Linked DNA regions of Homo sapiens: region 2 is linked to region 1. The links come from fine-mapping of genetic effects on gene expression. Tissue or cell type: prefrontal cortex. Region 1 holds a variant in brackets; the other region holds the start of a gene. All regions are shown on one strand. Distances are from middle to middle.

The links. PIP is the estimated chance that this variant, and not a neighbour inherited with it, causes the effect.
Region 2: it holds the start of FAM162B, and the variant in region 1 is the best candidate, but not a certain one, in a credible set for the expression of FAM162B in prefrontal cortex (CommonMind, PIP 0.87).

Annotation. Positions count from the first base shown.
Region 1 is chr6:116,740,382-116,745,768 of GRCh38, reverse strand. It overlaps KPNA5 (karyopherin subunit alpha 5), which reads right to left. Exons shown (of 14, transcript NM_001366306.2): 14 at 3,902-5,387. Among named protein-coding and RNA genes, the nearest start is that of FAM162B, 23 kb to the left of the region's middle. The variant T/C (reference allele first, on the strand shown) is at 3,427.
Region 2 is chr6:116,762,493-116,767,879 of GRCh38, reverse strand. FAM162B (family with sequence similarity 162 member B) reads left to right here and starts at 2,161. Exons shown (of 4, transcript NM_001085480.3): 1 at 2,161-2,475; 2 at 2,625-2,733. The coding sequence starts at 2,304. It overlaps LOC105377963 (a long non-coding RNA gene), which reads right to left and starts at 1,512. Exons shown (of 3, transcript XR_942910.3): 1 at 1,341-1,512; 2 at 1,159-1,237; 3 at 1-814. RefSeq lists an enhancer at 2,626-3,140.

The DNA.
Region 1 (5,387 bases):
TACTGGCATCAAAACAGACACAACAAGCAGTGGAAAAGAATAGAGAGCCCAGAAATAAACCCACATATCTATATGGTCAATTGATTTTTGACAAAGGTGTCAAGAACACCCAATGGAGAGAGTCTTTCAGTAAATGGTGTTGGAAAAACTGGACATCCACATGCAAAAGAATGAAATAAGACCTTCATCTCACACTATGTAGAAAAATCAACTTGAAATGGATTAAAAACTTAAACATAAGACCTGAGACTGTAAAACTAGTAGAATAAAACAGAGAAAAGCTCTATGACATTGGTATGGGCAATGATTTTTTGGATAAGAACTCCGAAGCACAAGCAACAAAAGAAAAAAGACAAATGTGATTACTTATGAGAGAGGAGATAAAAAGAGACTAGCTAGGCAGATAGTTAAGGCAAAAAGTTCTTGGCAGAACTTCCCTTCTAACAAAAAGCAGCCAAAGAAATCACTTTTTTACTAACAAAGAGCAGCCTGGAAGATCGGGCTGCAAACAGTGATAAGGAAGCTGGAAGCTTGCATGCGGGGAATGTCTGCAACTGCACCGGTAGAAAGGGGTACCTGGGGCCACGCATGTCCACCATGGGGGCTCCACCTCCCCCTTTTTTTTAGCACGTGCACAGTAGGAAAGCAATGTGGAGTCACTCAGGCAAAGGACCCCCAGCATAATAAAAGGTTGGGGTGGGGGATGCCAGAGATTCACATTCTATGCAGATAGCATACCTGGTCCTAACCAGTTTTTTGTGCCCTATGAGATAAGATACTGCCTCCCCACTAACTCACTTATAAAACCCTTGCATTTCACTGCTGAATGGCAACCCTTTTGTGACCGCTCTCTGCAACAAACAGTTGTTCTCTTTTGTCTATTAAACGTCTGCTTCTGCTCTGACCTCACCCTTGGCGTGTGTGCGTCCTTGATTTACTCGGCCATGAGACCAAGAACTTCAGATGCCACCCCAGGTAATGAGGCCATTTCACTTCAAACTAAAAAAAAAACTATCATAGCAAAGAAAACAATCAATAGAGTGAAGAGAAAGCCCATGGATTAGGAGAAAATATGTGCAAATTATATATGTGATACAGAGTTTCTATCCAAAATATATTAGAAACTCAACTCAATAGCAGGAAAAATAAATTACCCAATTAAAAAATGGACAAAGGACCTGATAGACACTTATCCAAAGAAGACATACAAATGGCCAATAGATATATGAAAAAAATGCTTAAAATCATTGATCATAGGGAAATACAAATTAAAATTATAATGATACATTACCTCACATCTGTCAGAATGGCTATTATCAAAAAGATGAAAGATAAGTATTGGTGAGGATGTGGAGAAAAGGCACCTTTTGTACACTGTTGGTAGAATGGAAATATAGCTATTATAGAAAAAAGTACAGACATTCGTCAAAAAATTTCAAATAGAATTACCATATAATCCAGCAATCCCACTTCTGGATATATATCCTAAGGACTTGAAATCAGTATGTCAAAGTGATATCTGCACTTGCATGTTCATTGCAGCATTATTCACAATGGCCATGATATGAAAGCAACCTAATTGCCCATCAAGGAGGAATGAATAAAGAAAATGTGGTAAAATGGAATACTATTCATCCAACAAAAAGAGGAAATTCTGCCATTTACAACATGACTGAATCTGGAGGACATTATGCTGGGTGAAATAAGCCAGGAACAAAAAGACAAAAACTGTGTGATCTCACTTATATGTAGAATCTAAACAACTCAAACTCATAGAAGTAGAGAGTAGAATGAAGGTTACCAGATTGGGGGATATGGAGGGGATGAGGAATGGGGAGACAGTCAAAGGGTACAAAGTTGTCAGTAACATATGGAATAGGTTTTAAAGATCCATTGCACAGCATGCTGACTATAGTTAGTAACCATGTATTGTGTATTTCAAAATTGCTAAAAGAGATTTTAGCCAGGCACGGTGGCTCACGCCTGTAATCCCAACACTTTGGGAGACTGAGGTGGGGTGGGCGGATTGCTTGAGGCCAGGAGTTCTAGACCAGCCTGGGCAATATGGCGAAACCCCATCTCTACTAAAAATACAAAAAACTAGCCGGGCATGGTGGTGCACGCCTGTCATCCCAGCTACTTGGGAGGCTGAGGCATGAGAATTGCTTGAACCTGGGTGATGGAGGTTGCAGTGAGCCAAGATCATGCCACTGCACTCCAGCCTGGGTGACGGAGTGAGACTCTATCTTGAGGAGGGAAAAAAAAAGAGTAGATTTTAAATGTTCTCATCATAAAAAAGGGTAAGTAAGGTGACAGATATGTTAATTAGCTTGATTTTTATCATGTCATGATGCAAATATATTTAAAAAACACAATATACCCCATAAATATATACCATTATTTCTCAATTTAAAATAAAAAATACATTCATGAAAGAAAAAAAGTCTAAACAAATGGAAAAGCAAAAAAAAATTTAAAACAATTACCATGTTAAACTAGTATTTCTGAATCTATAGTCACTGAGCTAACTACAATATCATCGTGATTAAATAAGATTAAAATCTTTTTAGTTTTTGAAATGTTGCTTATTATACTTTAAAAACGCATTTGTACAGCTGATTATTTAAAACTGGAATTAAATATCAATTAGTGGAGTTTGACATCTTTCAAAACATAGACTCTAGAGAGAACAATAAAAAGGGGTGCTTGTTCATTTAAAAAAAAAAAAAGGATTTTCCCCCTTTTAAAGTATAATTTCTATCCCAACAAAAAACTTAGTGGCAAATCCCCAACACTAGGACAGATTTGTCAGTTTTACGGGTACAACTGGAATACCCCTTCCTTACATAACAGAATATTATTCATATAAGTTGTCTTCAACTTTCACACAGAAAGTGTGATAGCTTTAAAAGAAATTTACCTTAATGTACGTGCTTCAAAATACAATATTGAAGGATTATCCTTTGAAAAATTTTAAATCCCACTCTAAGATGCAAGCAGGAATAGATGTATAGATGTTCACTTGAATACAGTAAGCTGTGACAATTACTGAGCTAGAAAGCCAATATTTTAAATTTTTATACCAATAGGATTTTCCTATTTGTTGAACTTTTTAAATTGGCGTCTTCTCTTCATGGTGTCTTAGGGCACAGTCAGAAATAAAATAAAGTAGGTAGGTTCAAGTAGTGCTTTCAAAGATGTGAGAGTTTTAAAACACACCAATATTTAACTCTTATTTTTGTGTGTCTTATTCTGTTAGGAGTATATAAAAAATAGGCTGTGGTTAGTACAACAGAAATCAGTATCAAATGAAGGAGAATTGTGTTATCTAATAGAGGGATTTCCAAAAATGACTTCTACTTTGGGTTAAATATGTTTATGTAAAAAAGAACTCTCTCTCCATAGTCAAGACTTTTAGATGTCTAT[T/C]ATCGGTAGAAACTTGTGGTTCTTTATACTCCTGTTTACATTTCATGAGGTAGTTCATACATGTATTTTCAAGTGTAATGGGTAATGGCCAGTGTATTTGTTAAAAACTATACATATCACATGTTTATGTAGGTACGAATGTATATTCTATATACACATGTGTATTCTAATATATTTCTGAGGCGATGTTAATGAATTACCACATGCACAGGAAAAATAATAACTGTCATCTGACCCATAAATCTGCATTTGTGTTTTAGTATGTGTATATAAAAAGTTATTTACCCAGTAATGTTATTTGACATCAAATTGCAACAAATAAAATTTCTTGGTGCTAGTGGTTTGCATGATAAACACAAGTTTTTTGTGTATTTATGACCAGCACTTGGATTGGGTGAAAAGATAGTTACCCCTGTGGTTCAAGAAGGGGGAAAATAAAAGACCTGATTGTTTCATAAAAAGCATAAAACATTAATACACAAAGTAGATTCTTTTATTCTGGAATTGTGACTGAAGGACAGTCATGGGGATTAAGAACAATGCTTTAAAAAAATCTTGCTTCCCTTCAGTTAAATCATTTCCTTAACTGTTTCCTGTCACCGCTTTTTTGTTGTTTTTTGTTTGTTTTTTAACAGTAAATCCCAGAACAAAGGTTTAATAATCTTCTTTTCCATCAGCTGACTGCTTTTTTGGATGGTAGGCATTCTCTGGTGCATTGGTACAGAAGACTTCACCATGGAAGCTCATGCTTGATCTTTCAATATGATCATGATATTTTTCCTCTTGGCATAATATGGCTGCTGTGTCCTCATCATTCAATGAAAAAGTCTGTCATTTCTACCACAAAGACCAAAGGGAAAATATTTTCAAATAAGTTTCAACTATTTTGTTAAAATTCACTTAACAAGTACTCTGAAAATGTCAACTATTGTTCTGTACTTTTAGCACATAAATGTACAAATTCTCATCTGAACCTTAAAAAAAAAGATGTAATTCTAAATTTCTATGCACAAAATAATGTAAAAAACATATAAAACACAAAAAAATCGTCAGAACTATATGGAAAATTCAAAATCCACCAATCATCTTGGGAGATTTTAACACACCTCTCTTAGAAACTGGCGAGTTAGAAACTGATGAATTAAGCAGACTAGTATGTAAAAGACATGAATCAATTAACAAAACACATTCTTTTCTTACACACATGGGCCATTTCACTAAAACCAACACATATCAGATCATAAAGCAAGTATCAACGAATTTCAAACTCATGTAATCACATCACAACTTAGAAGTTAGTGGCATATTTTTAAGGTCTGAAATTTAAAAGTACATTTCTTTTTTTTTTATTATACTTTAAGTTTCAGGGTACATGTGCACAATGTGCAGGTTAGTTACATATGTATACATGTGCCATGTTGGTGTGCTGCACCCATTAACTCGTCATTTAGCATTAGGTATATCTCCTAAAGCTATCCCTCCCCCCTCCCCCAACCCCACAACAGTCCCCAGAGTGTGATGTTCCCCTTCCTGTGTCCATGTGTTCTCATTGTTCAATTCCCACCTATGAGTGAGAAGATGCGGCATTTGGTTTTTTGTTCTTGCGATAGCTTACTGAGAAGGATGATTTCCAATTTCATCCATGTCCCTACAAAGGACATGAACTCATCATTTTTTATGGCTGCATAGTATTCCATGGTGTATATGTGCCACATTTTCTTAATCCAGTCTATCATTGTTGGACATTTGGGTTGATTCCAAGTCTTTGCTATCGTGAATAGTGCTGCAATAAACATATGTGTGCATGTGTCTTTATAGCAGCATGATTTATATTCCTTTGGGTATATACCCAGTAATGGGATGGCTGGGTCAAATGGTATTTCTAGTTCTAGATCACTGAGGAATCGCCAAACTGACTTCCACAATGCTTGAACTAGTTTACAGTCCCACCAACAGTGTAA
Region 2 (5,387 bases), 22 kb before region 1:
ATATTTATGACATTTGATTCCCTCCAGGGAAATAAACTTATTTCCCTTGTTTAATATTTCTTAGTGAATTATTAACGATTGGTTGTTTCTCAGTGATGGCTTTCTCTAGCTCTATGGATACTCCCTCTCAGTGATGTGAAGACAAATAAAATACTAATAGAAAAAACCACATTTAAATAATGCAAGAATCTTCAAGTACCATAATGCTGGAGCAATATTAGCTATGGCAACATACTTTCTCAGGCAGGAATTCATTCAGTTGAGTTTTATAAACACTTATTTGGAGACCGCTATGTGGTAAGCAACATGATAGACACTGAAAGTATGAAGTTTAAAAGGACATAGAATGTCCTCAAGCATCTCAGTCTTTTCGTAAACTAGCCTAGGTGCAGACTATTCTGTTTTCGAAGACTTGTATTCATCTATTCATTTATTTAACAAATACTTATTAAATATCTACTAAGTGCCAATTTTTCAGCTATATCTTGGGAATATAATCACAACTCCTGAAGGTCAGGGAGCTCCTAGTTCCCCACAGGAGATTTCATAAATTAAAATGCCCTTGTGTTTTGGGACTAAAGAATGTGACGGGGAAAGAAATCATTATCTTCTGAAGTATTATTACACACCAGGCACATTTAGAAGGACATTGCTAACCATGGTTTCTAAATATCTTCTCACTCTACTCCTGCTTATTCTTTTTCACCTTGTTTTATTTTTCTTCATCTTCACCTGATGTCATCACTGCTCCATCCCCAGCTCTGAGAGGTAGCTGGCACGTAGCTGGTTACTGGTAGTCATTGCATGAATAAACCTAAAAGATAGGAATTCTGGTTTTACAAAAGAGACCAAGACTTATAACTTAAATGATTTACTGCTCATGATTGTGCAACTTTTAAGTCACAAATCCGGGATTTAAACCTAGGTGTGAAGGCAAAGCCCATGTTCCTTCTGCAAGCGCTCCTCTAAATGTATGTCTTCACAGAGCTATTAACCCCTCTTTTTTTGTTTAACACGGTTATGTAAAAAGAAAAAAAAACTGAGCTGGCAGTTACAGAAAAGTTATAGCTTTCAAGAGCCTGACAGTCTAGTTAGGAAGCAAAATATCTAGAAATCCAACAAGTGCAAAGCAGTGTCTAGATAAGGAGGGAAACTCACAGGCAGTAATAGCAGAGGAGGGTGAGCTCGGCCTGGTGCTGGGCTGATGAGCACTTTGACTTGGCAGGAGGTCTGTTGTCTGTGGAACAAGATAAGTAAATTGCTTGTACAACCCTTCTCTCCAATCATTGAATCTGAATCCCTGTTACCATTTAATGCCTGAAAATAGTAGATTCTTTTACCTTTTAGCATAGAGGAGATGGTGGAAGGTGACAGAAGAAAGGCACATTTTGAAGGGAGTGTGGAGAGTTTGTGGGCTAAGAGATGAAGAGGTAGGAAGCTGGCATGGCGGCTCATACGTGTAATCCCAGTGCTTTGGGAGGCAGAGCCCAGCTGATAGCTTGAGGCCAGGAGTTGGAGACCAGTCTGGACAACATAGTGAGATCCCATCTCTTAAAAAAAAAAAAAATAGCGGAGCGTGCTGGCGCACGACCAAAGCCCTAGCTACTCTGGAGGCTAAGGTGGGAGGACTACTTGAGTCCAGGAGTTCGACGTTACAATGAGCTATCAGCATGCCACTGCACTTTAGCCTGAGTGACAGAGCCAGAGACTGTCTCTGAAAAGAAGAAGAAAAGATAGAGAAAGGCACTTGGAGGAATTGAGATTGTTTTCCGTAGGAAAGAGAAAAGGTATGGGGGTGGGAGACGATGAGGTGAGGAGCTAACTTCAAGAAATCTCATCCAGAAGTTAGTGGAGTGCCCTTAACACTTAATTGGGAAATGTCTTCAGTTTCCTGCACTTGAAGGATTGTTGTCTCTTCCTGGAAGAGAGGATTTAGATTTATTCTCCTGGGGAACAAACGATGGAATCAAAGGCTAAAAGCCTGGCGGGAATACATTTCTACTCAATACAAAGAATTTAAAAGGAGCTACACGCACTGCCTCAGGCGGTGGTGAGCCTGTTTCAAACAGAGGCAGGCTGCTTCCTGAGGAACCAGCCCCTCGGGGCTTGACGCCCTGATCCCGGGTCGCTGGCCGGGGGCGGAGACGGGGATAGCGAGCTGAGTGTGCGAGCGCCAGGGGTTCCAGCTGCACGTCCCAGGCTCTCCAGCGCGCGGCAGGCCGGGGCGGGACGAGGAGAGCTGCGGGGACAACGCCTGTGGCTGGGTCCGGAGGTGCGGGTGCGGCGCGGGACAAGCGGGCAGCATGCTCAGGGCGGTCGGGAGCCTACTGCGCCTTGGCCGCGGGCTAACAGTCCGCTGCGGCCCCGGGGCGCCTCTCGAGGCCACGCGACGGCCCGCACCGGCTCTTCCGCCCCGGGGTCTCCCCTGCTACTCCAGCGGCGGGGCCCCCAGCAATTCTGGGCCCCAAGGTCACGGTGAGCCAGGGCTCCGACGGGGAGGTCCTGGGAGGGAGGAGGTTGCGGGAGGGCAGCGAGGGGCCGGCCCGGGAGTCGGCTTGAGGGCGCGCTGATCCTCTGTGCCGGTGCGTCAGTTCCCGCGTCCATCTGGGTTGCTTTCGCTGCAGGGGAGATTCACCGAGTCCCCACGCAGCGCAGGCCTTCGCAGTTCGACAAGAAAATCCTGCTGTGGACAGGGCGTTTCAAATCGATGGAGGAGATCCCGCCTCGGATCCCGTAAGTGTGGCGACCGCCGCGCGAAGGAGAGTCGGTCCCCGGCCGCAAGGGTGCGGGGTGACCCACCTTCCGACCGCGGCCACCTAGGAGCGAAAGCGGCCGCAGTGCCAACACTTCGCAATATCACCCACCACACACGGAGTTTACCCACACACACACCCCGCCTCCAGTGCGGTGTGTCAAGAGTCAATTAAGCTTACAGGGAGATTGCAGAAGGTGGGTGAAAACTGAGAGGTTCAGGGGACACTTCCAGCACCGCCCAGATTGCCGGTCCCCAGCAAGCTCCGAACTGGGAGGCAGTGGGGCTCTTGTGCCAAACAGGCCACGGTCCTCGCGAGCATCCGGATGGCTGCCGGGACGCCAGACCGCAATCCAGGCTTTGGCCGGGGGCGTCCCCCTACCCCACCCAAGGAAGGGGTTCTCTGATCTTGGCTTGCGGGGCGGCTGTGGCGGGGGGGTCTCTGGAAAAAAGACGCATCCATGCGGCCTCCTCTTCTGGGGCAGGAGACGCCTGGCGGACGTGTTTCTGCAGCCCTCTAGGCTCCGGGTTTACTCAGGGTGGGACGCGCGGGAGTGTCAGCACTGTGGGCCTCTTCAGCATGCTAAACCCACCAAGACAGATGATAAAACTCAAACTAATAACTCCCCCTCTAAGGTAATGTAACCTGTAAAATAAATGCTAATAATAAGTAAATGTAACCTGTAAAAAAATCTTTCCAAAGTTTCTGTTTCTGCCAAGCCCAAAAACCTTCGCAGCATTTTTACAAGGGATTGGGTAAAAAAGAGAGGGACGGAAACTAAAAATAAAATCAATCTACTACTTTTTAAGTTTATCTTTTAAAAATAAAAGACTAAAACCATAACGTGAAAGAAGGATTTTAGATATTCTGTATATTTGTACAATGTAATGAATGCCTATTAGAATGGATAATGGAAACTGGGCCTATATTTCTGTTTTTCACATGGTGCCTGCCATGTTATTGTTTATAAACAATTGCAGTTTATCAGTTACCAAAGCATCTCAGATAGCTAGGGGGTGGGGTGGGAGAACATGGCAGGAAATGTACACTCAGTAATGAATTCTGAAGCATTTTCGTTCTTTTATTGGAGCAAGTCACCAAATGAGAAATGGACATGGAATTTGAAATAACACTGCATTTGAATCCGTTTTCAGTATTTATTCAACTACAGAGGCACTTTCTAAGATTATTTTTCCTCGAGATCTATAGACTCCAAACTACAGACTTAGCTGAAAGCAAAAGTTAGCCTCAGAAAAGTCTTTATCATCATAAGCTCTGGTTATCAAATTTTAATTGATGCCTGAAAATTTAATACTATAAATGCCAAAGAAGTAAAAAAAAAAAAAAAAATTAAAATAAGTAAGCCACCACCCTCAATTGGTTTGAATTTTTATTTCTAGTGGCCTAACCAAGTAATCAAGAGTGTAAAGAACCAACATTATTGCATATTGTTTGTCAAGAAAACCTATGCCCAGTATTGCATTTAACATAGCTGTATTTGTGAACAGACTCATTTTACAGAAATAATGTAATTTCCCCAAGATCATAGTCAAAAGATGTATTATAAACAGGAGCATTTCACTAAGAACAGGATGCCTATAAAAAGCATTGCAGTTTTGCATTGGAAACATAAAAGTATTTGAGTATTTTTCATTTTATTATTTTTCTATAACTTTTTAAGCATTACTATTTAAGAGAGATATTCCTGTTAAGCTAAGTGTCACACTTACAATGTAAACAGCTTTTACCTTTTAATGGACATATAATGAACAAGTGACCTATAATTTTTGTATCATACACTAATTGTGTTTAATAATAACTGTACTTTGTCTTGTTTTTCTCAGTGCTAAACTAATTTGTTATAATAGATTAAAGCCAAATGGCTGGGTAAAAAAGATCAGAGCTTCTAGGTTCCATCTGGAACAAAAGTTAGCAGCAAATATAATCTAATAATTTCTCCATACTCACTAATTGGACCTGTTTGCAACTAACATCTTAAAACTTACATCACTCTGCCTAAAATCTAAAGAAAATAGGCTAGATAGGAGTTTTCTGTAGTCTTTTAACCAGTGGAAAATTTAAAAAGTTTTCTGTTTTTAAGAGAAAATGCAACTTTGTCTTTCTGGATTTTTTTTTTCAATGTAACTACACTCTATTTAAACTGCACATAGAGAGGAAAGAATACCAATGAATATATTATAATGAATGAAATTCTTTAAATATGCATATTTATAATCTGCCACTTCATATCATTGAAAATTGTTAAAGTTTATTTCAACGTAAAAGTCCCACAGGCATGATGCCTTTTGTATTACTACTTTGTAAGTAGTATTATTAAAATCTTGGACAACATGCATAAAACTATGAATGAATATTTAGAATTTAAGTATATCAAATTTCAGTATAATAATAACATTAAAATGAAGGTCTCTTTTATCTTTTTCCTCGGCAAATTATTGTGATTTTGATCACGTTTAACAAAAAATTATTGCAAAAGCCATGAAGGAAACATTTTTCTAACAGACATTCTCACAAGCTGGATAATAGTGTGTCTTTTGGGGGTAGCATGTGAAGGGACAAGAGATTGGGAGGCGAGTGAAAAAAACAAAATGATAAAAATGAGTTTTAAAAAAA